Linked DNA regions of Homo sapiens. The protein of the gene in region 2 interacts with the protein of the main gene of each other region in a biochemical or structural test. Each region holds a gene or a part of one and is shown on either strand. Other genes may lie near its edges. The genes, in order: PPP1R9B and ADRA2A.

The links.
Region 1: the proteins of ADRA2A (region 2) and PPP1R9B form a complex in vitro, tested with the Homo sapiens proteins (one study listed by BioGRID).

Annotation. Positions count from the first base shown.
Region 1 is NC_000017.11:50,133,678-50,140,677, reverse strand, and holds the end of PPP1R9B (neurabin-2), read left to right. Parts: intron 1-449; coding exon 450-585; intron 586-1,096; coding exon 1,097-1,249; intron 1,250-1,361; coding exon 1,362-1,415; intron 1,416-4,480; coding exon 4,481-4,710; intron 4,711-5,028; coding exon 5,029-5,125; intron 5,126-5,293; coding exon 5,294-5,347; 3' UTR 5,348-6,941; downstream 6,942-7,000. UniProt on the Homo sapiens protein: Seems to act as a scaffold protein in multiple signaling pathways. Modulates excitatory synaptic transmission and dendritic spine morphology. Binds to actin filaments (F-actin) and shows cross-linking activity. Binds along the sides of the F-actin.
Region 2 is NC_000010.11:111,069,538-111,085,134, reverse strand, and holds ADRA2A (alpha-2A adrenergic receptor), read right to left. Parts: upstream 8,107-15,597; 5' UTR 7,139-8,106; coding exon 5,741-7,138; 3' UTR 4,228-5,740; downstream 1-4,227. UniProt on the Homo sapiens protein: Alpha-2 adrenergic receptors mediate the catecholamine-induced inhibition of adenylate cyclase through the action of G proteins.

The DNA.
Region 1 (7,000 bases), on a different chromosome or scaffold from region 2:
CTATTTCCTCTCCATCCTAATCTCCAGTTGCCATCATCCCGCCCCTTCCTGAAGCTCAGGGGCTTGGAGCATACCCAAGAAACACCTCCGCAGCCCATCCCTGCTGGGAGGGTCATCTTCACCTTTCCCTGCCTCATTTTCTCCCCTGTGGCAGGGGAAGAGCCTCCTCAGTGCATGTCCCCTGCAGCACAGCCTAGAGGTGGGCTGACATTCTCCCTCCCGCAATACTGGCCAGAGGGGTGAATGGGCCTTCCTGCCTCCCTTGGGAAGGAAACCTGATAAGGGCCCTCATTCCCCCATTCATTATTAACACTGCAGCCTTCGGACTCAGCCCTCTCATCTCTCCTCCCCTGGGAGGGCCTGAGTTTGGAGAGGGGAGCATCAGCAGGGAGGATGATGCATTACCTGGCTGAGGACAGAGGCAGCGGATGATGCCGGTGCCCCTGCAGGTTTATGATTGGCCGGGAGCGGCCGGGAGAGCAGAGCGAAGTGGCCCAGCTAATTCAGCAGACTTTGGAACAGGAGCGATGGCAGCGGGAGATGATGGAGCAGAGATACGCCCAGTATGGGGAGGATGACGAGGAGGTAGGGAGTCCCTGCCTGGCTGGCCGCGTGGTCGCCCCCTGGTGGCTAGATGAAGCATTACAGTCATCTGCCTCTACTGCTTCCCCTGCCCTAGTAAAAAGCCCACAGTGCCATTCCCTGTCCTCCAGTCACACTCTTTGTCTTCAGAGGCCGGACAAGGAATACACAGTCCTCTCAAAGAGCCCCCAGTCTGCGGGGAGAGCATAGCCCCTAATCTTGGGGGACCTAATCTGAAAGGGAGATAGATCCAGAAGGGGAAAGATAGTACAGGCTGTTTCTTCAGAGACCCAGGCTGATGAGGAACTGACCCCCTCTGTCATCAGGGGACTACCAGGCTGTTGGGGGAAGACATAAACCGTGTCTCTGGTCCAGCCTCAGGCTGAAGTGGGAGGCATGAACCACATTCCTGGGTAGCTCTCTGTCTGGCATGGGCAACTGGTCCCAGCCCTGGTCATCAGGGCTGAGGGCAGCTGGGTGGGGTGGGCCCACAGTCTCCGGTCTCCCTTCGCAGACGGGAGAGTATGCCACTGACGAGGATGAGGAGCTGAGCCCCACGTTCCCGGGTGGTGAGATGGCCATCGAGGTGTTTGAGCTAGCGGAGAACGAGGATGCACTGTCCCCTGTGGACATGGAGCCCGAGAAGCTGGTGCACAAGTTCAAGGAGGTGGGAGGAGGGGCTCCCTGGAGTGGTGGAGGGAAAGGCAGGCAGGTCTCCTGCCCTTGGCACTGCCTGCCCCACCCTGCTGGAGCTGAGTGCCTGCCCCTCTGCCCAACAGCTCCAGATCAAGCATGCGGTCACTGAGGCAGAGATCCAGCAGCTGAAAAGAAAGGTAAGGGTGCGTATGTGTGTGCTTTTGCGTGCGTGCATGTGTGTGTTGAGGAGCAGGGTCCCCCTACCCTCACACCTGCACATGCTGACACTTAGGCACAGGTACCCACAGAACAAGCTGCTCTAAAGCAAGATGATATGATAGATACGATATTAAGAGCTTAAGCTCTGGATCCATCTGCTCCAGCATCACTTGCTTCTCTGTGCCTCAGCCTCCTCATCTATAAAATGAGGTCGTAATAGCACCAACACCACAGGATCGTTGTGGGATTAAATGAGATAACACACGTCAAGTCTTTAGCACAATGTGTGACATAATAGGAGCTCAATAAAAAGTCAAAGTAGGCTGAGCGCAGTGGCTCATGCCTGTAATCTCAGCACTTTGGGAGGCCAAGGCAGACTGCTTCAGCCAGGAGTTAGAGACCAGCCTGGGCAACATGGCGAAAACCTATCTCTACAAACAATACAAAAATTAGCCAGGTGTGGTAGCGCACACCAGTGATCCCAGCTACTTGGGTGGCTGAGGTGGGACGATCATTTGGGCCAGGGTAGGTCGAGGCTGCAGTGAGCCGTGATTGTGCCACTGCACTCCACTCCAGCCTGAGTAACAGAATGAGACCATGTGTCAAAAGAAAAAAAAGTCAGTATATTAGCTGTGATACCGAAGCATGCTAAGTTCTGCTCTAGGTGTCTCTATGTTTGTGCTGTCCCACATATGTCTGCTATATATAGGCCCATTGATAAGTACAGACCACCCAGAAGTACACACACTGACACAGCAGCCTGGCCCCAGGCACATAGTACCCACAGACCCCCTCACCCAGACACATAGAGACACCCACTCTACACAGACACAGTCACAGAGACAATGGACCTGTGCTTCACATTACACTCGAGGCTATCAGCCTGGATATGCAGACCCACTCTGCACCCATCTGCTCTGAAACACACAGGCATGGCCATCGATCAGACCACCTGGTCTAGGAAGAGTGTCACAGGGCATGCATATTCTCATCTGGGCAAGTAACACAGAGGTGCTGATGCCGACCCCAGATGGAGACACGTGGCACACACACACACACACACACACACACACACACACACACACACGTAGTATACACAGATGCTTACACAAGCATGTCAGGTGCCAGCACCCTCACAGGCATGCAGATATACAGACTTCATATTAAAAGTCTGTATGGGGCCTCTGCTGGGACCTAGACTATAGGAGTCCCAGTACCTATGGGGCTTCTGCCGTGGTGGGGAGAGACAGATCTATAGGGGTCTTGCAGACATGGGAGTGTGTGTACCCTCCCACATGGGGGTATGCAGGAGAGGAGGCCAGGGTTTGGATGGCTGGGGCAGAAGCAGGGGCATTCCTGGCAGGGAGAGGAGCTCCATGGAGCTTGGAGTCTGGCTTTGAGGGGAGGCCAGTCAGGAGGTGGCAGCATGCCTGTCGGGGAGAGGTGGAGGCAGGGCTGGACTGCCAGGATGGGCTCTGGCTTGCAGTATCCTGCCTCCCCTCTAAAGACTCTGGCCTTGGTCCTACAGATAGCATGGGGTATGTGGCCATTGGGATTTTTCGGAAAGCCACTGCCTACAAAGTGGGAGGGCATGAAAGTGGGCAGTGCTGGGAGGCAGGCAAACTGGTTAGGGGCCCAGACAGTGTCCTGGCAGGGGTAGGCCAGGACTGCTCAGAGTATAGGCAGAGGGTCTGGAAAGGAAGGGTAGGTGAGCGCTGCATTTCCGGGGTCAGAGTGACAGGCCATGTTCCTGAGGTGTATGCAGAGTATGAAAGGGAGGGGCACGCCAAAGGTCTGTTAGTGCATTCTACTTACAGACATCCTCTGGGTACCTTCTAGATGTCCAGTATTGTTCTCATCACCATGATGGGCAAAGCCATAGTTGATCGTTGTTCTTGTGCATCTGCAAACCAGTGACTGTGTCATCATCACACGCTGGCATGGGGCTCTGTAGGAGAGAACAGGCTTACTGAGCTGCTAAAGCAGGAGGAACCTGATTCGGGTGGAGGTGGGAGTAGGGCTGTGCTGTTGGAGGGAGCTGTGGGGGCTTTTTTGGAGAAGTGACACACAGCAGAGAGCTGAAGGGTGAGCTAGAGGGAAATAACTAGGCAAGCAGGAGGGTAGATGGGGGACATTCCAGGCAGAGGGGACAGCACACGTAAAGGCCCTGTGGCAAGTCTGAGGATCTGCAGGAAGGCCTGTGTGGCTGGGGGACAGAGAGCAAGGGATGTTTGCAGCAAATACTGGCCTGAGACTGAGTGCCAACATGGCTATGAGGTTGTGGCGCCTTTTAACAGAGCAAGTCAGGAAAGGAGGCATAGGTTTGTGCAGCTGCGGGGGCCTGGTCTGGGGCATGGTACCTGGGAGGAGCTGGGAGCTAAAGCTGGGAGTTGGGAGCAAGGGTGGGCTGGGACTTGAGATTTGCAGCTCAGAGTGCACAGAGGTAGTGTGGGAGATGGGCCGGTGCCCCAGGGCAGTGAGTATAGAGAGAACAGAGGATCCGGAACTGAGCTGTGGGGGACTGGAGGTCTGCGCTGGGGTCACCTGGAAGCTGGGAGAGAACCAGGATTGTTCAGGAAGCCACAAGTGCAGAGACTGGCGAGCAGGGCTGGGGCTGCAGAGAGGGGACAGAGAGTAATGGTGACCCTCATCTGCCCTTTTACTTCACATGTACTGTCTCACTGGAGCTTTTGTGAGATTGGGAGGCACATATCACTGCCATTTTACAGATGGGATAACTGAGGCTTGGGACATTAGTTGCATTGCGCCAAGTCAGAGTATCAGTGACTAACCGAAGCCTCCAGCCTCCCTGCGAGTGGGGTGCAGTGACAGGGAGTCTGGTGGGAGCTCTGAGGCTGAGCTCTACTTCTTTCCTCTCTGGGTTTCAGTTCTCAGGCTCAGCCAAAGAGGGTTAGTAGTTGGGGTGCAATGGACTCCACAACGGTAGGAATCCCCTGGCGACTCTGGCCCCAGTGCTAGGATGGGGGTACCCTTTGGCTCCTGCTGGCCCCCACCAACCCAGGGCCGTGCCTTTCTCTCTCAGCTGCAGAGCCTGGAGCAGGAGAAGGGGCGCTGGCGGGTGGAGAAGGCGCAGTTGGAGCAGAGTGTGGAGGAGAACAAGGAGCGCATGGAGAAACTGGAAGGCTACTGGGGTGAGGCCCAGAGCCTGTGCCAGGCTGTGGACGAGCACCTGCGGGAGACTCAGGCGCAGTACCAGGCCCTGGAGCGCAAGTACAGCAAGGCCAAGCGCCTCATCAAGGACTACCAGCAGAAGTACGTGGCTGGGGGCTGGGCGGGCTGGGCCCAGGGAGCATTGAGAGGCTTTTGGGGACAGTCCCTCCCCATCCCTCCAGCTGAGTAGGGAGGCACAGAAGTTGGAGGGCCCCATGGTGGGGACACCCGGTCCGGAATGACCAGGCATCAGAGCCAGCACAGAGCCAGACCCCCAGAGGCTTTGGGAAAACCTGGGGCCTCCTGACCTGAGAACAGGGAAGGACAGAGTTGCCCAGGTAAAGCTGAGGACCTGGGTCACCCTGGATGAAAGCCAGACCACACACCCTTACCTGCCATCTGTCCCTTGCCTGTGCCCAGGGAGATCGAGTTCCTGAAAAAGGAGACTGCACAGCGTCGGGTTCTGGAGGAGTCGGAGCTGGCCAGAAAGGAGGAGATGGACAAGCTCCTGGACAAGGTGGGCCTGGGGCGCCCTGTGGGCAGGGCCCAGTGGAGGGAGCAGCATTGAAGCCCCTACCCTGTGGGTCCTGGAGGGAGGGGATGCCATGTCCTCACCGGGGGGCGGAAGGGGCTGGGATCATGCCTGGTGTCCAGACCTGACCCCCTACCCTCCTTTGTTTTCCAGATCTCAGAACTGGAAGGAAACTTGCAAACACTGAGGAATTCCAATTCTACTTAACAGGAATCATTCCATGACTGGACAATAATTAACCCCCCTCCCATTGTCCTCCCTCCCCTGTCCTCAACACCCCACCCCTCCCCCTTCCAGCCTGGGGACAGGTGCCCCGACTCCCCCCACCCCTCCACCCCACCTCCCCCAGCTTCAGGGACCAGAGGGCTCATATCACAGGCCCCCTTAAGATGGCCTGGGCAGACAGAGGTGGCTAGAAGGGCAGCCTCTTTCTTGCCCCATGGGGCTGAGGCACAGAGGCCGAGGGCTGCCGAGGGCTGGCCTGGTGGTCGACGGACACAAGCACCTGCAGATCAAACTGCCAGACTTTACACACTCCAGCTTTTGTCTCTGGACTGGAACGGGGCTGGGGCTCTCCCAGCATCTGCCAACTGGGGGCTGCTCCCTGCCCATGGGGCACCTGGGTGGCCCCTGGGCCTCTTGACTTGAGATTCTACCTTCTCGGCCCTTCCCTCTCCCCCCATCATTGTGCCGTCTCTGTTGCATTCTGACCCTCCCGCCTGGGGGGTGGGGGCGTTGCCTCAACACCTCCCCCATCCCTGTTCCCTGTCCTGGGAGGGATAGAGTCCACCCCAGAGCCCGGAGGCTGGGCCTGGCCCTGGCCCTGCACTGATTTCTCATGTGTCCTTCGGGAAAAGGGGGAGTGAGAGTGGGAAAAAGGGAGAGTTCAGGACACCTGGTCCCCAGCTCCCCATTGCCTGGGGCAGCAGCCCTCAATTTCTCCTTGTGCCTCCCCTCTTCCAGGTGCCAAATAGCCATAACCTCGTCTTGGAACTGTTATGTGGCCTCTCTGGGGTCCAGGTTTCCTGGTCAAGCCTGGGAATGCCAGGGAGGAAAGGGGGTCTGGCTACAGCGACCCTGGTCTTAGGCAAGGGGAACATTTCTCCCTGGAGAGTCAGGTCCTATCCTGTGCTGCCCTGTCTGCCCAGCCCAGGGCGATGCCTGGAAGCCTACTGACATTGCAGGGAGTCAGCCTCGCCCCCACCCCCTACTGGTTTTCCAATGTTTTGACTGGAGGGCAAAATTTTACTACTACTCATCTTTTTGGAGACCAGGGCTGCCCTGCTGGCAGCCTGCCTTCTAAGTGAAATCGACTCTGTTTCCCCACTTTAACCCCAAATTGGGGCTTGGACCAAGGGAGGTGAGACCACCTCCCCCAGGTCCCCTCCCCTTTCAAAATCCATCTCATTTTGCCACTTCATGCCCCTGCCCTAACTGGGTTTTTGTTCATTTTTTAAAAACAGACCACCCATCCCATCCGTTTTGGCTTCTTGTCCCCTGTAAATAGACCATGACTTCGATCAGTATTTCTTGTCCCCACCCCTTCCTATCCCCAGATGTGCCCCCATCCCCTGAAGGAGCTGGCTGTCTCAGTCCTGGGCTCGCGCACTTCACCCCGGCAGATGGAGGGGGCGGAACCGGGTGGGCGGGGCCGCTTCGGGCTGCTTGGGCCAGCGGCCACCCCTGCCCAGCCGTCGGGAGGGCCGCATCTCTGTATATAATATATATATGTATGTATTGTTCCCGGTTTTGTACGGACCATGCCCTCTGTCAGGTCGTCCCCATAAAAGCAGCCCCCAGAGCCTTGCTGCCTGGTTTCTTGATTCACTGAGGTGGGGAGTGGGCAGGGATCAAGGATGC
Region 2 (15,597 bases):
CCCTAGAAGGGGAGTGGCATTCCACCTCGGGGGAGCAGACTCGCAGGCAGGGAGGGGCCAACTGACATGACAACCAGTGAGACGCACCACACTCCCCTTTAATTCCCTTTGTGACCTCTTCCCCTGGTGTGTACACATATACCCTCAACTGCCCAGATGCTTCCACGCCAGGCCCAGGTGAGCAAAGTGGTCCTCAGTGTCCATTGGTGCCTGTTTACACGCACACAGAGATACATACACACTCACACACCCATACACGCTCACATGTTACACACACATACACATAGGCTTAGCCTATGTTTGGAAAACACACCAAACCCTCACTTCTACCCCAGCCTCAATAAGGCCAATGGCCGTTAGCGCCAGATCTCCCTACAGAGAGCACATGGCTTGGCCCTGTCCAGTGTGCCTCACCCATGGCCTGGACAGAAGGAGAGAGCAGACCGGCATTTCATAGAATTATAAAATGGATCATCAGAAAAGCCCCGTGAGATCCCTTAACCCAGTATTACCCAACAAGAGTTCCAGCAAACATGAGTCTCTGAGATGCTCTGTTAAAAAAAAAAAAAAAAATGAAATTCCACAGTCCAGGGAGTTTGGGAAACAGCACACCACGTCATCCTCTCTCAGACAATCGGAAACCACATAGGCACATTAAAGGCTCTGAGAGATCCTGAAGGAGATGTACCTATTAAAGACTGCTTACCCCAGCATTTCACCAGATAGGTGGCAGACAGGGAAGAGATGATACGTAGGTGACAGACAGTAGAGACAGATAGAATGATAATGTCAATAGATAATGTAGATAATATAGATTTTGTAGTTGAATTAACTGCACAGAACACACTGTTAAATAATATTAGACCAACCACTTGCATTTCATAAATGAAGAAGCAGGGACTCAGAGAGGGATTTGCTCAAGACCACATCGCTGGTAAAAGACAAAACTGGGCCTAGAACGCAGGCCTCCTAATCCTCAGTCTAGGCTATTTCCAACAGACCCTGTTCTATTTTTTTTGTATTTAACTAACTCTAAGCCCCAGGATTTCTGGTAATCAAATAGATCAATGCTATTTCCAAAACAAATCTGAGTGTTAGTGATTTTGCTCCGTGACTTGACGTGGCCTCCCTTTCGCGCGTGCCCTCTGCTAAGGAAGGTGCCCCTTCCTGCACCCTGGACTCTCAGGCCCACTGTGAGGGGTGGCAGGGCCCAGGGCAGAGGCCAAAGGGCTAACCTGGCACTGGGCTCTGGACCTCGGTACCTGGATCCTATTATGCTACTGAGTCAAGGACGTAGACTTCCTTACAGGTGTCCCCAAATGGGGACAGGACCTTGTCATGCCATCCCCAAGATGAGGTTGGATGAAAGCTGAGGTCTGACTTGGGCCTAGGTGCCACTGCCCAGGCCTGGCACTGGTCCCACAGGACTCAGCTGCTAGAACCAGAGCTTCCTTCGCGGGCCTAGCCTTCTCAGAGTGTGGACATCCCAACTCCCACATTCTATGCCCTGAGCTCCCAGCCACAGCCACCTCTCCCCCACTGCTCACTCACAGTACAGATGCCTATTACCCTTGGTGGGCACACAGCATCCTCTCCCCCACTGCCACACTGTCACTGTGTGTGGCTAATGAGTGCTTTTCACAGGAACATCCTGTCTCCCCATGTAGCTCCAAAGCTTCCAGAGGGCAGAGGCAGGCCCTAATCTCACTCCACAGGGACAAGTGGTGAGCTTTGCACAGTGCATGCAGGGAAGGAAGAGAACTGCCTTGCAATGCCTAGGATGGTCCTTGACACAAAGCAGGCACAGGGGATCCTCTGGGGTTGATTAGCAACTCACCACATCCCAAAACAAAATAGAATTCATGTTGGGTGCATATGGCATCAGACGGAGAGTCACATGGAAGAGTGGGCTCAGGGGCTCCTGGAATGCTACATAACCAACAGCTTTTCTAGGTCTCAGGTCCCTTGATCTGCCACTACAAGGTAAGAGTTAAGGATTGATGAGGATGCTTCTGGCTCTAAATCTCTGATTTGATTATACAGTCATAGACAGGGGAAAGCCCAAGCCACGTTTTCATCATTCTCTCCCCCAGCCTTTTAGCATAGAAGAAATTGAACAAAGCCTTGGGGAGGAGGAGACTGTGCTTGTGCCCAGGCTCAAATGAAGGCACTACCCTTCCCCCAACCCAGCACACTTGCACGAGTAAATCTAGCAAGACACACTTCAGACCCAAAAGCCAATGGCTTTCAATATCCCAACCAAAGTTACATAAAACAGGAGATTCGGCCACGAAGACAGACCCTCTTGGCCCAGATACTCGGGAACAGATACTATGCACAGGAAAATGTGGGGTTAGCTCTTTAAGCCAAGATCCCTGTGGGAGCCATTTCACCTTAATTTCCCTCCCCACCCCACACCTTGGCAGACTGTTGCTTGAGCCCTTTGCAAATGAATAAACAGTGATTCCTACTGTGAACTCAGAAACCCACCCATGCCTGGGCTCCAGCCCTCTCTCCCCCACTTTCTGCAACCTCCATCCACCTCTGAGGTTTCTCTGCTTCTGTATCGAGGAGGAGGGAGCATGACACCAGAGGCCCCTCCGTGTAGCACCTCAGCCCATGCTTCTTCCCCCTCGGCGGGTGGAGGCAAGGCAAACACTTCCCTGACAGACAGGACAGAGCTGAGAGTCAACAGCAAGCAGTATTTGTATCTGCTCCTGTGGCTGGGACACACAGCCTGGGTCCTGGGGGCTCGCCAGGCAGGCTGTTGTCTGGCACTGTTTGCCTTTGGGGCAATGGGTACACTGGAGTGAGGAGGGAGAGGAGAGGCTGGGGTGAGGGTGGGATGGGGAGCAGGCCACAGAACCAGACCAGGGAGCCAGCCGTGGCACCACAGGCCAGGAGGCTGTTTTCTGAAGCCTCTGAGCCAGGGTCACTGGAGCCCAGCACCTGGCCATCCTCCTGTGTGCCGGCTCAGAGGATCCAGGTGACGGCAGGAACTCCTCACCCCCTCAGAGCCATGGTCTTCCCTCTCCCAGGCCCCTCAGTGCCCAGATCATTTCTCAGGGCTCTCTACCCTCCCACTGCTGCATACACAGACACCCTCTCCTGCACGAGAGAAGCAAAGGAAGATGAGGAGATGCTGCATGGCCCAGAGGGTGCAGAGGACCTGCTTCTGGGGGGTGTCCAAAGCTGGTCCGCACATATTACAGGTGACTGGGCTCACAAAAGCTGGCCTCCCCCAAAACCACAACCTGACGCTTGTGTTTGCCCCTCAAACCCCCCTCCTCCATAAGTGGCTATTCATCAGTACTGCATCTGACTACACACACAGAACTACTACTACACATCTCTCAGCTGCGCCCTAACCCGGGCAGCCTGGAGCCAGAGCCCTGTCACCTAGCGCCTTGGGATCCTGAGCAAGTCGCTTCCTCTTGCATCTGCATTTGCCTTCTCATCTGTCAGATGAGGGGTTGGACTCCTGGATCACTAAGGCCCCTTCCAGCTTCAAAGTGCCATTACCATAGTATGAGGGCCATAAGCCCTCCTAGACAGCAGAGCAGACTTTGATATTATAGCAATGCAACAAGAAGGATGCATGCCTTCTGGCCAGAGACAACTCAAACCACCAACTAATACATGGTTCTATTCAGGTTTTAGACCATACTTAGTGCATAACCACACTATGGAGTATATGCTACATGTCATATATTATCATGCTTTAAGGTGTGATATACATTTTGGAGTATATTCCACACTTGGTGCATATACCACACTTTGGAGTAGATACACACTTTGAGGTATATAGACACATTAGGTCATGTAGACACTGGGGTATGTATACACCTTGTGTATATTAAATACTGGGATATATCTCACACCTGGTATAGATAGCACACTGCATAGACACCTCTCCACTGGGAGTGTTCTGAGAAGGGCTAATGCCAAAACTCTGGAAAGGTTCTGGGGTTAAGAGTGCAGGCCCTAGAACCAGATAAAGCTGGGTACGATGCATTTCCACCACTTGTTAACCTTGAGCAAGGTTAACAAACTTGCTCTGAGACTCAGTTTCTTCACCTGTAAAATGGGGATAGTAATAAAACTTACCTCATAGCGTTCTTGAGAAAAGTAAACGAGGCAATGCCTACAACCAGTTCACCACAGTGTCTAGCATGTCAGAAACACTTAGTAAATGGTAGCTTTGTTACTGATGGAACGTTTAAAAAATTTTTATAATGTACATTTTTTATTTTTAAAAAATCCATAAAATCAGATGTTCCCAGAGTCTTAAAGCTTTTGAAAACTCAGATAACAGACAAGAGGACCACTCCATTCATATTTATTTCACATTTGATCTGTAAACTTTTTTATTTAAAAAAAAATCCACTGTCATTAGCAACATGTGCTGACATTAGTTTTTCTTTAGTGAAATAAGAGTGCAGGCCTTAAATTGTCTCTGTCTAAAACATGTAGAAATGCAGATGTAAACACAAAGTCTCTGCCCTCCTCCCCTGACTTTGGCAGTTCATCAATGACATGATCTCAACCAGAAAAGCACGGAGGGGGGAAAGGACAACATTTTGATACCTAACAGCTCTTGGGGAAGAAACTGTACAGTTTGGCAGGCCCATTTGTCTTTTCAAACTGTTTACCTTGGGCAAATTGTATCAGGTTTGCTTCTTCCACATAATTTCCACTCCTTGGAGTCTAAAAACAGCAGCTAAAAGATTTCCCCATAGTCAGCACTTTCGGGGCAGGAGGGGCACACAGACATACAAGATAGAAACATACATATTCTTCTTCAAGCAGTGGCCCTGGAGGGAGAGAGGGAACACTGGAAAGAGAGGTTTTAAAGTGAGTTACTGGGGCAAACAGTGCATCAGAGAATAATGGCTTTATACACAGGGCTGATGTGAGGCAGAAAGGCTCATTTACTTATGTCTTGATCCACCATCATAATATTTACATAGGAAAAGGCAATTATGCTGTTAGGCACAGGAAAAAAATGGACAGAAATCTTTTCCCTGTCAGGAAATCTCAAAGCAGGTCCGTGTCGAAGGGACAGTCACCAGTTGCTGGTGAAAACGACGACATAGAGGGACTTCATAACACCAGAAAGGGCTTGCATTGCAAAGGGGCTTGGCCTGAACCAGACAGCTGTGTCTGCCTGGAAGGCATCTCTCCCAAGGCCAGGATTTCAACATCAAAACCAAGGCCAAGAGATATGGGGGCCCCATGTGTGCTATCAAAAATAGTGTATATTTACAGCGGGGGATGGGGAGGGCAGGCAGGGCTGCCCTTAGCATTTTTCTTTAAAAAGAGAGAGAGAGTTGGGAATGGAAGGGGAATTAGCCAGGGCTAGGTAACCCCCATCCATTAACCTTTTGTGAGCCATGCCCTTGTAGTCCAGTGCTTGCTCTGAAGAGCTGTGAGGGCTGTACCAGGCGAAGAGGGTGAAAATACCTTTAGGAAGCAATAGTGATTAGGGGTGGCCCACTAGGAAGATGGCTCCAGGTCAAGAGTGGCCAAACCAACAACTGGGGATGTGTGGGCCTGGCAGCAAGAAGCTTCCCTTGTAGGAGCAGCAGACGCCCGCCCGCAGGAGGCTGCAGAGCCACCCCAGACGAGGAAACGCAGAGCAGGCAGCGCCCGGGTTTCTGAGTGCCCTGGGGCTAAGCACCCCTCGATGCCCCCCGCTGCCTGCAGTCAGCGTGAGTCTACGCGGGCGCCAGCGGAAACCTCACACGATCCGCTTCCTGTCCCCCCGACAGAGGATCTTCTTGAAGGCGCGGCGGAAATCGTGGTTGAAGATGGTGTAGATGACCGGGTTCAACGAGCTGTTGCAGTAGCCGAACCAGAAGAAGAATTTGAAGAGCGTGCGTGGCACGGAGCACCCGACGGCCGTGAGCGTGTAGGTGAAGAAGAAGGGGAACCAGCACACCACGAACACTCCGATGACCACGGCCAGCACGAACGTGAAGCGCTTCTCGCGGTTCTGCCGCCCGCGCCAGCGCGACGCCTTGGCAGCCCCGACGCGCTCCTCCCCCGGCCCTGCAGCCGGCGTCCCGATCCCCGTCGCCCCCGGCCCGCGCCGCGGCAGGCTGTCGCCCGGCTTCACCTGGCTCGCTCGGGCCTTGCCTTTGCCCCGGGGACCGCGCTCGGGTCTGCGGGGCCCTGGAGGCCGCTCGGCGTGGTCGGAAGACGAGCTCTCCTCCAGGTCCAGCGCGTCGGTGTCGCGCGGCCCGGCCGGCGCGGGCTCGCCAGGGGCGCCGTTGAGCTGGGTGGGCAGCGGTTCGGCCTCTGCGCCCCCCGGGCCCGCGCTGCGCTCGGGGCCCAGACCGTTGGGCCTGCGCTCGGTGCCCCCCGGCGGCGCGGCGACGGCGTCCGGACCCCGGCGGCTGGGTGGCACGCGGGTGCGACGCTTGGCGATCTGGTAGATGCGCACGTAGACCAGGATCATGATGAGGCAGGGAGCGAAGAAGGAGCCGATGCACGACGAGATGACGTACCACTTCTGGTCGTTGATCTCGCAGCGCGGCTCGGCCGGCTGCGGGCCGCCGCCGCCGCCCTTCTTCTCGATGGAGATGAGCGGCGGGAAGGAGATGACGGCCGAGATGACCCACACGGTGATGATGATGGCCTTGATGCGGCGCGGCGTGCGCTTCAGGTTGTACTCGATGGCCTGTGTGATGGACCAGTAGCGGTCCAGGCTGATGGCGCACAGGTGCACGATGGACGACGTGCAGAAGAGCACGTCGAGCGCCAGGTAGATCTCGCACCAAGCCTTGCCGAAGTACCAGTAGCCCATGACCTCGTTGGCCAGCGAGAAAGGGATGACGAGCGTGGCCACCAGGATGTCGGCCGAGGCCAGAGACACCAGGAAGAGGTTTTGGGGCGCCTTGAGCGCGCGGCTCGTGAACACGGCGATGATGACGAGCACGTTGCCGAACACGGTGAGCAGCATGAGCAGGCCGGCCAGGCACACCAGCGTCAGCGTCACCTGCAGGGAGTAAGGGGTGGCCCGGGCGCCGCCCCCCGGCGCCTCGGTCCCGTTCCAGCTCGCGTTGCCCGCGTCCGGCTGCAGGGAGCCCATGGGCGCAAAGCTGCCCTCGGCCAACGGCTGCTCCTGGCGGAACATGAACGCGGGCGCCCGCTGGCCTGGGCCTGCTGCCAGCTGCCTTCCGGCCCGGCGCCCGTGGGTCCTCCTCTTCCTCCGGCGCCCCGCTCGCCTGGCTGCGGCTCACATAGGGAGGGGGCCGCAGGGAGGCCGGGCCCGAACTGGAGGACCGCTAGCGGCCCATGGCCCGGGTCCCGCGAACTGCGCCTGGCTCGCGCTTCAGACGCTCTCGGTGGGCGCCTTCTTGCTCCGAGCTCCTAATACAGCCAAGTTTTATTTCTAAGCGGCGGGAGAGAGTAGGGAGAGCCGATGGGTAAAGAGAGATTTATTCTTCAAGAAGGGAGAACAAAAATCATCGGTGGCCTGATAACTTGGAAGGATGACAGGAAATTAAATATATATATACATATCAATATCTGTATCTTGAATCTTGAGCCTGAGCGAAAGCAAGAGGTCTTACCGTGTGCGGGGCCCGCCCCCACCCCGGGAGGCAGCCGAAGGGTGCTGATGCGAGCTCGGGGGTCCTATGTCTGTCGCCTTACATCCCCGAAGCGATTACCGACTCTCTGGCTTCCCCCAGACGCTGCGGTTCTGGCCCGGCCCGGCCCGGGGCTGGGGCGCGGACTCTGCCGCCTCTCGGAGCGCCGCGAGACTTCCAAAGTTGTGCGCCCTGCTGGGGCTGGGGCACACTGTGCGGAGCTCCGGGACGGCGGCGGCGGCGGGGTGAGGAGTGTGGGGGCCGCATGAAGGCACCCCCGTCCTCAGGCGGGCCGGGGCAGGTGAACGATCAGCTCTCCAGGAGCCGCGACGGAGGCAGGGGTTCTCCTGGGCGTCCGCCTGGTGGGCGCCGAGCGCTGCTGGATGGGCCGGGGTCCGACGACAGCGCGAGTTGGGGCAGGAGCGCAAGGCGGGGAAGAAGGCGCTGGAGTGGCCGGGCGGCGGCACGCCGGCTGCTGGGCTTCTGCACCGAGCTGGAGCTGCTGCTGCTCCGCTGCGCTCACGGTGGACTCGTTTTATAGCCCCAGGATCAAGCAAGCGTTGCTGAGCAGCCGGCGTCAGCCCCCACGTGGGAAGCCGACCCTCCCCCGCCCCTCGCACCACCCCTCCGCCAGTCTAGCGCCCGCGCCTAGCGCTGGACCTCGGGGAGCGTTGCCCTCAGGCGGGACGAGCCCTTTGGAGAGGCGGGTACCTTGAGCTAGAGACTTAAAGAGGGAGCCCGGGGGTGGGGGGTAGGGGAGGAGCGGCCCCTGCTGGGAGTTGGCCATGCAGCTCCGGGCCGACGGAGCAGAACGCAACGGGCACCCGTGAGTGCCCCCAAGAAGCTGGATCTTGGGAGAAAAGGGAAGAAAAAAATGGAAGGGAATCCCCGCCCAAATCGAGGGAAGTAACCTCCGGTGTGAGTTACGTCTGGAGCAGCCCAGCTCCGGGCCAGAGCCGACGCGGTCCGCAGGTGCTCCTGGAGGCTGGGGAGAAAGGGGTCCTGGAGAGGGAGGAAGGCGCGGCTTCGGATGGAACCCCTGGGGCGGAATGGACAGCACCCACGGGGAAGTGGTACAAGCCGGAGTTCAGACCTCCGCTTAGGGAAGAAGCGGCTACGTGTCCTCCCAGCCGCGATGCTGTCTGCGGGAAACGCAAGACCCGGGGTCTGGACCGCGCCCCCTTAGACCGAGGTGGGGAGGGGTCCAGGAGCCGAGCGCCAGGGCAAAGCGAGGACGCACTGACACCTGCTGGCCGCTCGTGGTCACGGCTGAGAAGCGACCCGCTGACGCCAGGCGCCTCCTCCCGTCTCTTAGGTCTTCTGCCAACAGAGCCTTCTCCTATCTCCGAACAAATTGGTTTCTAAGCTCAGGAAAGGAGAACCCAGAGTTTGAATTGCACCCTGCCGTGTTGCAGAAATCTTCCTAAAGCAGATACTCGTGTGTCTACCCCTGGCGGGAGTGGGGGTTTGTCTAATAAAGTCACATCAGGAAGGGCTCAGCAGGCACCGCCGGCCAGAACGGGCATCCCACTCTGGACCCGCACAGCCCACCCTTCCTGCAGATCCGAGAGAGGCCAGGATCCTGCCTCCTTGGTTGCACAGCTCTGGCTTGCTGGGAATCATTATGTTTTTGTTGAGGACCGAAAGCTAGACTCCACTCCCGCCCCGCATCCCACCCCCATTCAGATGTACACACAGCATCCTTCAATAAGGGGAAGAGGGAGTAGAATATTTTCCATGTTCTCTCTGATAAGAATAGCGGTGGGGGCGGGGGGGAGTGGGTGTGCGGCGAATGGCAAGTTTTTCCGTGCGTGCTAGCTGTCCTAGGATAGATTTTAACGGTCACTAGAGCACTAGCTTGCACCCTGCTAGCTGCACTTTTCAGATGAGAGCAAGCAGTTTAATGGTAAAACCCAAGAGGGTAGGAAATTTCAGCAGGAGAGAGATTAGACTTAAAGGAATGTCGTCTTATTTAAGGAACCACTAAACCAAAATGCCTTGTGCAGTCACCTAAGTTGGAATTCCAAGGATGGAACAGGCTGCCTCTCTGTGCAGCCAGCTGCAGGCTTAGGTCTGGCTGGGGGCTGATGGCTAAATTAAGGGCCCTGAGAATCACCTTCATTCCCAGCTGATGTCTATAGCCCGCACCAGTGATACAGTTATTGGTGCTGCTGCTGTTCATGTAGTCTCAAAATCTGTACTTTCCAAAGTATTTCACAGAAGTCTCATTTGACTTCAGTACCTTTGTCTCCCAATCTTTGCCCTAATGGTATAAACTCCCTTTCCAGTGTTAGTTCTGAGGAGCCTTTCTAATCTCCCTTTCTGGACAATCTAAAGGAAGCTGAGAAGACAATTTCCTCGCTCTGTTGAGTCACTCATTTTCCATCTTCTACTAAAGTCTCTGCTCTGAGGCTCTTGGCAGGGGCTTTGGACATCGCCAGTAGGCTCAGTTGGAAACATGGCTACAGTCATTTTTGCACAGCAACTAGGAACCCCACACTTCAAGTATGAATACTAAGAGACAAAAATCAGAGCCCGTGGCAATCTGGGGTTTGCTGTGTTGCTGTTTGTAGAACTCGGGAACTGAGTCTTAGGAGACCATCACTTACCATCTGCACCCCAGCTTCCAACACACTGCTCTTCTTCCTAATTTCAGAATCAAAAGAGGAAATAAAAACAAAGTTTACAGTAATTATCTTTCTTGAAATTTCTGCTGCTAGCCTGTGTATGACACCTCTTGTCATATTTTCTAAATGCTTCCCAAACAGCCAGGTGGTTTCTTAATTCCCTGATTTGGAGTCTTTTCTCCTAAAATGGGAACAGGTCTTTTCAGAGCCAGGAACCCTGAGGCCAATACACAACGAATACCAATAATAACAAGTGCTGCATTTTATTAAGTACCATGATGTATGCACCATGTGTAGGGTGATATACATGGCCCCTTTATACACAGAGTTCTTATTCCTGTCACATGTTCCTTATCACCAAAGGTTCTGCCTCCTCAGTTTGTCACACAGGGTCAGTATCTCTGAGCTTTGAAAAGCTATGTGGACACCATTAATTTTTGCTAGAAGATTTCATGCTGTGCAAGCTGAGTGAGACATTGCTGAGCAGAAAGATATCCACAAATATAATAATTCTCAACCAGGCCTATAGATCAGCATTTCCTAGGAAGACAAAATACACTTACCAATGCCCCACCAGGGAAATTATTCACCAGGTCCAAGGTGGGATGCAGCATGTGTATTTTGACAAAACTCCTTGAGAGCTGCAGGTGTGCACACCCTGCTGAAGACTTACCACCCAAAGCAATAAATCTCAGTGGGGGACAGGAGTGATGAGCAAGTGCCCTTGTGGGGACAGGAGGCAGTGTCCAAATTACCCGGGGTAGGAAGCCAACTTGAGCTAGAAAGAGTGGGCCCCAGATTGAGAATCACTGCCCTGAGCCAGTGAGACTGCTATGACAGTGTCATAGCCCTCCAGGGAGCTGGGACAGAGCAAATAGTTGAGAGCCACTGTAAATATGGAGTTTGGGTTTGATGGCCTGAGAAGGAGTCATTTCTGGGGACCCAAATGGGGGTCCATTATTACTTATATTATTACTAAAAATAAATAGTACCTATTAGCACCAACCACATGCTAGGCACAATGCCAAGCAGTTTATGTACTATATATTATATAATTCCCAAAACAATCCCATAATGTAGATTTTATTATCTGCCTTTGTAGATGGAGGAAACTAGGCAACAGACTAAGTAAACTGTCCAGCTAATAAGTGGCAAGGACAGAGCCGAACTCTATTTTTCCTGGTGGTAAGCCCAATGAGCTTTCTAAGTTCCTTACTGTGAATCTCCAGCCTTGATCGCACTGCCAAAGAGAAACCTGCAAAATGTTCATCAGAAATGAGCACATTGACAAGTTAGCACATCCTCCTTCTAGCCCTGTCCTTTCAGTCCATTGATGTCTACTAGATTAGGACAGTACAAGGCAAGATGTATTCCCTCTTTCTGTATCTAATGCCCACTCTTGGAGGCAACGTCACATACACTCTAGGAGACTGACCATTCCCCAACAGCCAAGCTGATGGAGAGCAAGCACTACACCAACTGGTTAGGCAACCCCTCCTCCTCCTAGTAGAAGCAACCTCTCTCTCTCATGGGTGCCATACATATTTTATCATGGCTTAGATGGACTTTTCTTGCTCTAGCTTATCTATTCATTTGTATGATGATCTAGCAGGTAGAAAGGACTGTCCTTTTCATCTCTATTCCTAGAGCATCTCTAAAACAGGCTTTTTAAAAATCATATTTCTAGTACCTACTCCTTGGAGATTCTGATTCAGTAGGATGAAGGCGGGGCCTGGGTGTTTGCATTTTTAACAAGTGCATGAGTAATTCAATAAATACCAAAATATAACACACAGAGCATGGATACTTGATAAATGTGTGATGGATGAATGTATGAATGAATGAATTCTACTTACACTGAAGCTATCAAAGAGGCAAGAGGGGCCCAGAAGTTGGTGAAGTTGGTGACTACGATGGCTAGCATTTTATTCCAAAATCAGGATTTCTTAATAGTTGAGGTAGCTTAACTAGTTCAAGGATATAAGTATAGGATTCTCTCATTCTCTTTTTTCCTAAAAGGAATATGTAAGTAGAGGAAGATAAATTTATAACTATCAGCTAGGTAATTTGCCAATAAAAGAAAGCTTCTTAAGATAAATCATCTGTCCTCATGTTATATCTGAAACTAAAGTATCAGGCAATACCAAAATTTGTCTTGGCTTCTATGTCTTTGATGGTGACTTCATCTAACAAAAGTGAGGGAGCTGGCTGGGAGAGAATATTAATTGCTTACTTTTTGAAAAAAAAAGACTTGACTGTCTAAGAAAAAGAAAACATGACTCATTTAGCCTGGACTCCTAGGCTGTGACAAAATCCTCACAGATAGAAGCAATTTGGTCACACACACACATAAACACAGGCCACCCCCCCACCCACCCACCCCTGCCCCCACCACAGCCTGAACTTAAACACACACTTGCTAGTCTGAACATGATGAACAGGTGGGGAATGCAATGTTCCCGCTACTACTCATGCCGTGTGCACAGCTGGAACCAAATGCTGCAGTAAGCTACAATCATCTGTCAACTCACTGTATTGCTGACAAGGGGAAGGGGGGAGTCAATAGGGAAAACTCTATTGCTTCCTCTAAGCTATTACTTAATTCCTCCACTTCTTTGTACCTGTGCTGAAGCCCTTGGGAATCCCATCGTTATTGAAGGTTAATGGAAGCCAAAAGAAAAGCATCAACTCCAGGGGTGCTGTAAGGAGCTGCCTTATTCACCACCTACCATGTTCATCATTTGACTGCTGGATCAGTCTTGCTGTATTCACAAAAACAAGCGATGAGTCCTGCCATCGCCTTTATCTCTTTCTAACGTGCTAACCCATCCTGCCCCAGCCTGGAAAATTAAGCCAGGTGTTTTCTATCTCTGCAAGGGCTTCTGGCCAATACCAAAAAGACAGCACTTGGTACTAGGATCAACTCAACCTTGAGGATGCCAAGAAAGATTGGGCTCCCAGCTGGCTCTTCGCTGGTGTGCCACCCTGCAGGGCATGTTTGTGTTGCCACTACAATGTGACTTTTGAGAGCTTGTGTGTACACACAAAGTTTAACATCACCTACCACAGTCTTCCAAGTCAGTCCTCACAAAGCAGTGACCTTTTCCACCACATCCAGGTGAATTATCTTGTCTGCTTTGTCCAGAAGCATGAGCAAAAGCAAACCTTGAAACAGTTATGGTGAGCAATGCTTACTTGTTCTCAGGTATAACAGGTGAGCTAGAGCCACTGGGTATGAAGGAGATATTTGTCACCAACATTAATAACTCTTAAGCTAATATTCCATTAATCTAATTAGGTAAGGTAAATCACCTTTCACATTTACTCAAAGAAACCATGGAGACGCCACGCCTGAAGCATATACACCCATGCACACACACACACACACACACACACACATGCACACAGACATATTTAAGAGATGGTCTGGCTCTCACTGCTCCCTGGAAATGATCTTTTTTTCCCCATTTTTCCTAATTGATAACACAAAGCACAAACTCTTCCTTGGTAAAAGGACCACGGCCTGATAGTTTCTGGGAGGCATTCAAGTGAAGTCGTTAAGAATTTAGGCTTTAGAGTAAGAGAAACCTGAGTTCTGGTCCTGCTTCTGCCATTTCATAACTATATTTACTTAACTTCTCTAGACTTCAGTTTCCTCATATGGAAAAAGGGGAAATAATTTCACATATCTCATGCATATCCTCAAAGATTAAATGTGTGAATACATGGAAAATACATAAGACAGTGTTGGGTTTAATTGGTGCTCAGACCAGCCTGGCCAACACGGTGAAACCCTTTCTCTACTAAAAATACAAAAATTAGCTGGGAAAGGTGGCGTGTGCCTGTAATCCCAGCTACTCAAGAGGCTGAGGCGGGAGGATTACTTGAACCTGGGAGGCGAAGGTTGCAGTGAGCCAAGATTGCACCACTGCACTCCAGCCTGGGCAACAGAGCAAGACTCTGTCTCAAAAAAATAAATAAAATAAAAAATAAAAAAATAAATCTAGAGAAAGAGAAGAGAGTTGGAATCTCAAAGCTGATGGAAGCTTGAATAGGATAAAGAGGTGAATGGTTTTTTAGGGTGATTTCTTCTGCAATTCGAGCCAACCCAAAGTGCCTAAAATATAACAGAAAATGGATTGATTCACATAAATGAAATTTATTTTAACCTGAGGCAGAGCTGGCTTTGGGCAAGATGGATGCAGTAACTCAGTACTGTCACTAAGAAGCTGATAACTTTGTGGAGAAAGAGGATTAAGCAAATAGAGAGTAATAAATGTAAGGAATCATGCAAGCCTCCCCACCAAAAAAAAAAAATTATATATATATATATGTATGTATGGGAAAGAAGCTGCCTTGGTTTCTCCTAGCACTCCAAATTCCAAATGTTGTTGCTAGGAAGTTGAGATGAACCTCTTGCTTCTTTTTCTTGGATTCCATGAGATTTCAGAGCCCACACAACTACTTCCCCTTTTACTTCAGCCTCTTGGAGTTGTTTTCTATTTTGTGCAACCAGAATATTTGACCAGAATGAATGCTAGAGCCTTAACTTCATAAAAATAGTTTTCATCTTCAATACGCCAGATTCCATGCTAGACAATGATCATATAATCATCAAAACATAACTTCCAATAACTTCTATACACTGCAAAGTCTTTGAGAGGAATCTTTTCTGTTAGTGTTACATATATTCAAAAAAATTAAATAACAGTTTTGATTTTAAGCACCAAATATTTTCAGTTGATGATGGCACTCTAAGTTTATGCTTCTTCTTTTCTTAGAGATGGAGACTTGCTATGTGGCCCAGGCTGGCCTCAAACTCCTGGGCCTCAAGCAATCCTCCCAGGTAGCTGGGTCTACAGGCCTACGCCACTGTGCGTGGCTTAAACTCAAGACTTTGAAGCACCCCTTTGTCCAATCATGTAGAAATGAAAGATAAACAAAAGAAATTTTAAAAGATAGACCCACTCCCGATGCCAAGCAAGATGGAGCAAGTCTATTACAGCCTCTCGGTCCAACTAAACAGCACAACTAAAACATCTGGAAAATTCAAAAAGCAGCTATCTGAAAGGCAGACAGTAACAGGGAGAGTGGAAAGGGAAAACAAAAATTGAGGAAGAAAGCCTCATGAGAGAGTTTCCTATTGATTTTTTTCCTCTTTTGTCTCTCACGTTTGATCCACGGAAGGCCTCAGTTGTGGAACTGAGCACCCCAGCCGGTATGAGCAACTCAGAGGGTGAAGCTCCCTCTTTTGACAGAGAATGGTGGAGAGGTCCACTGTGAGCTAGGAAATGTGGAGAAACTCTCTGAACATTTTTTCTTATTTGTCTTGTTTTTACTCTCCTCACCCTGCCACTAGAGTGGCCCCAAATAGG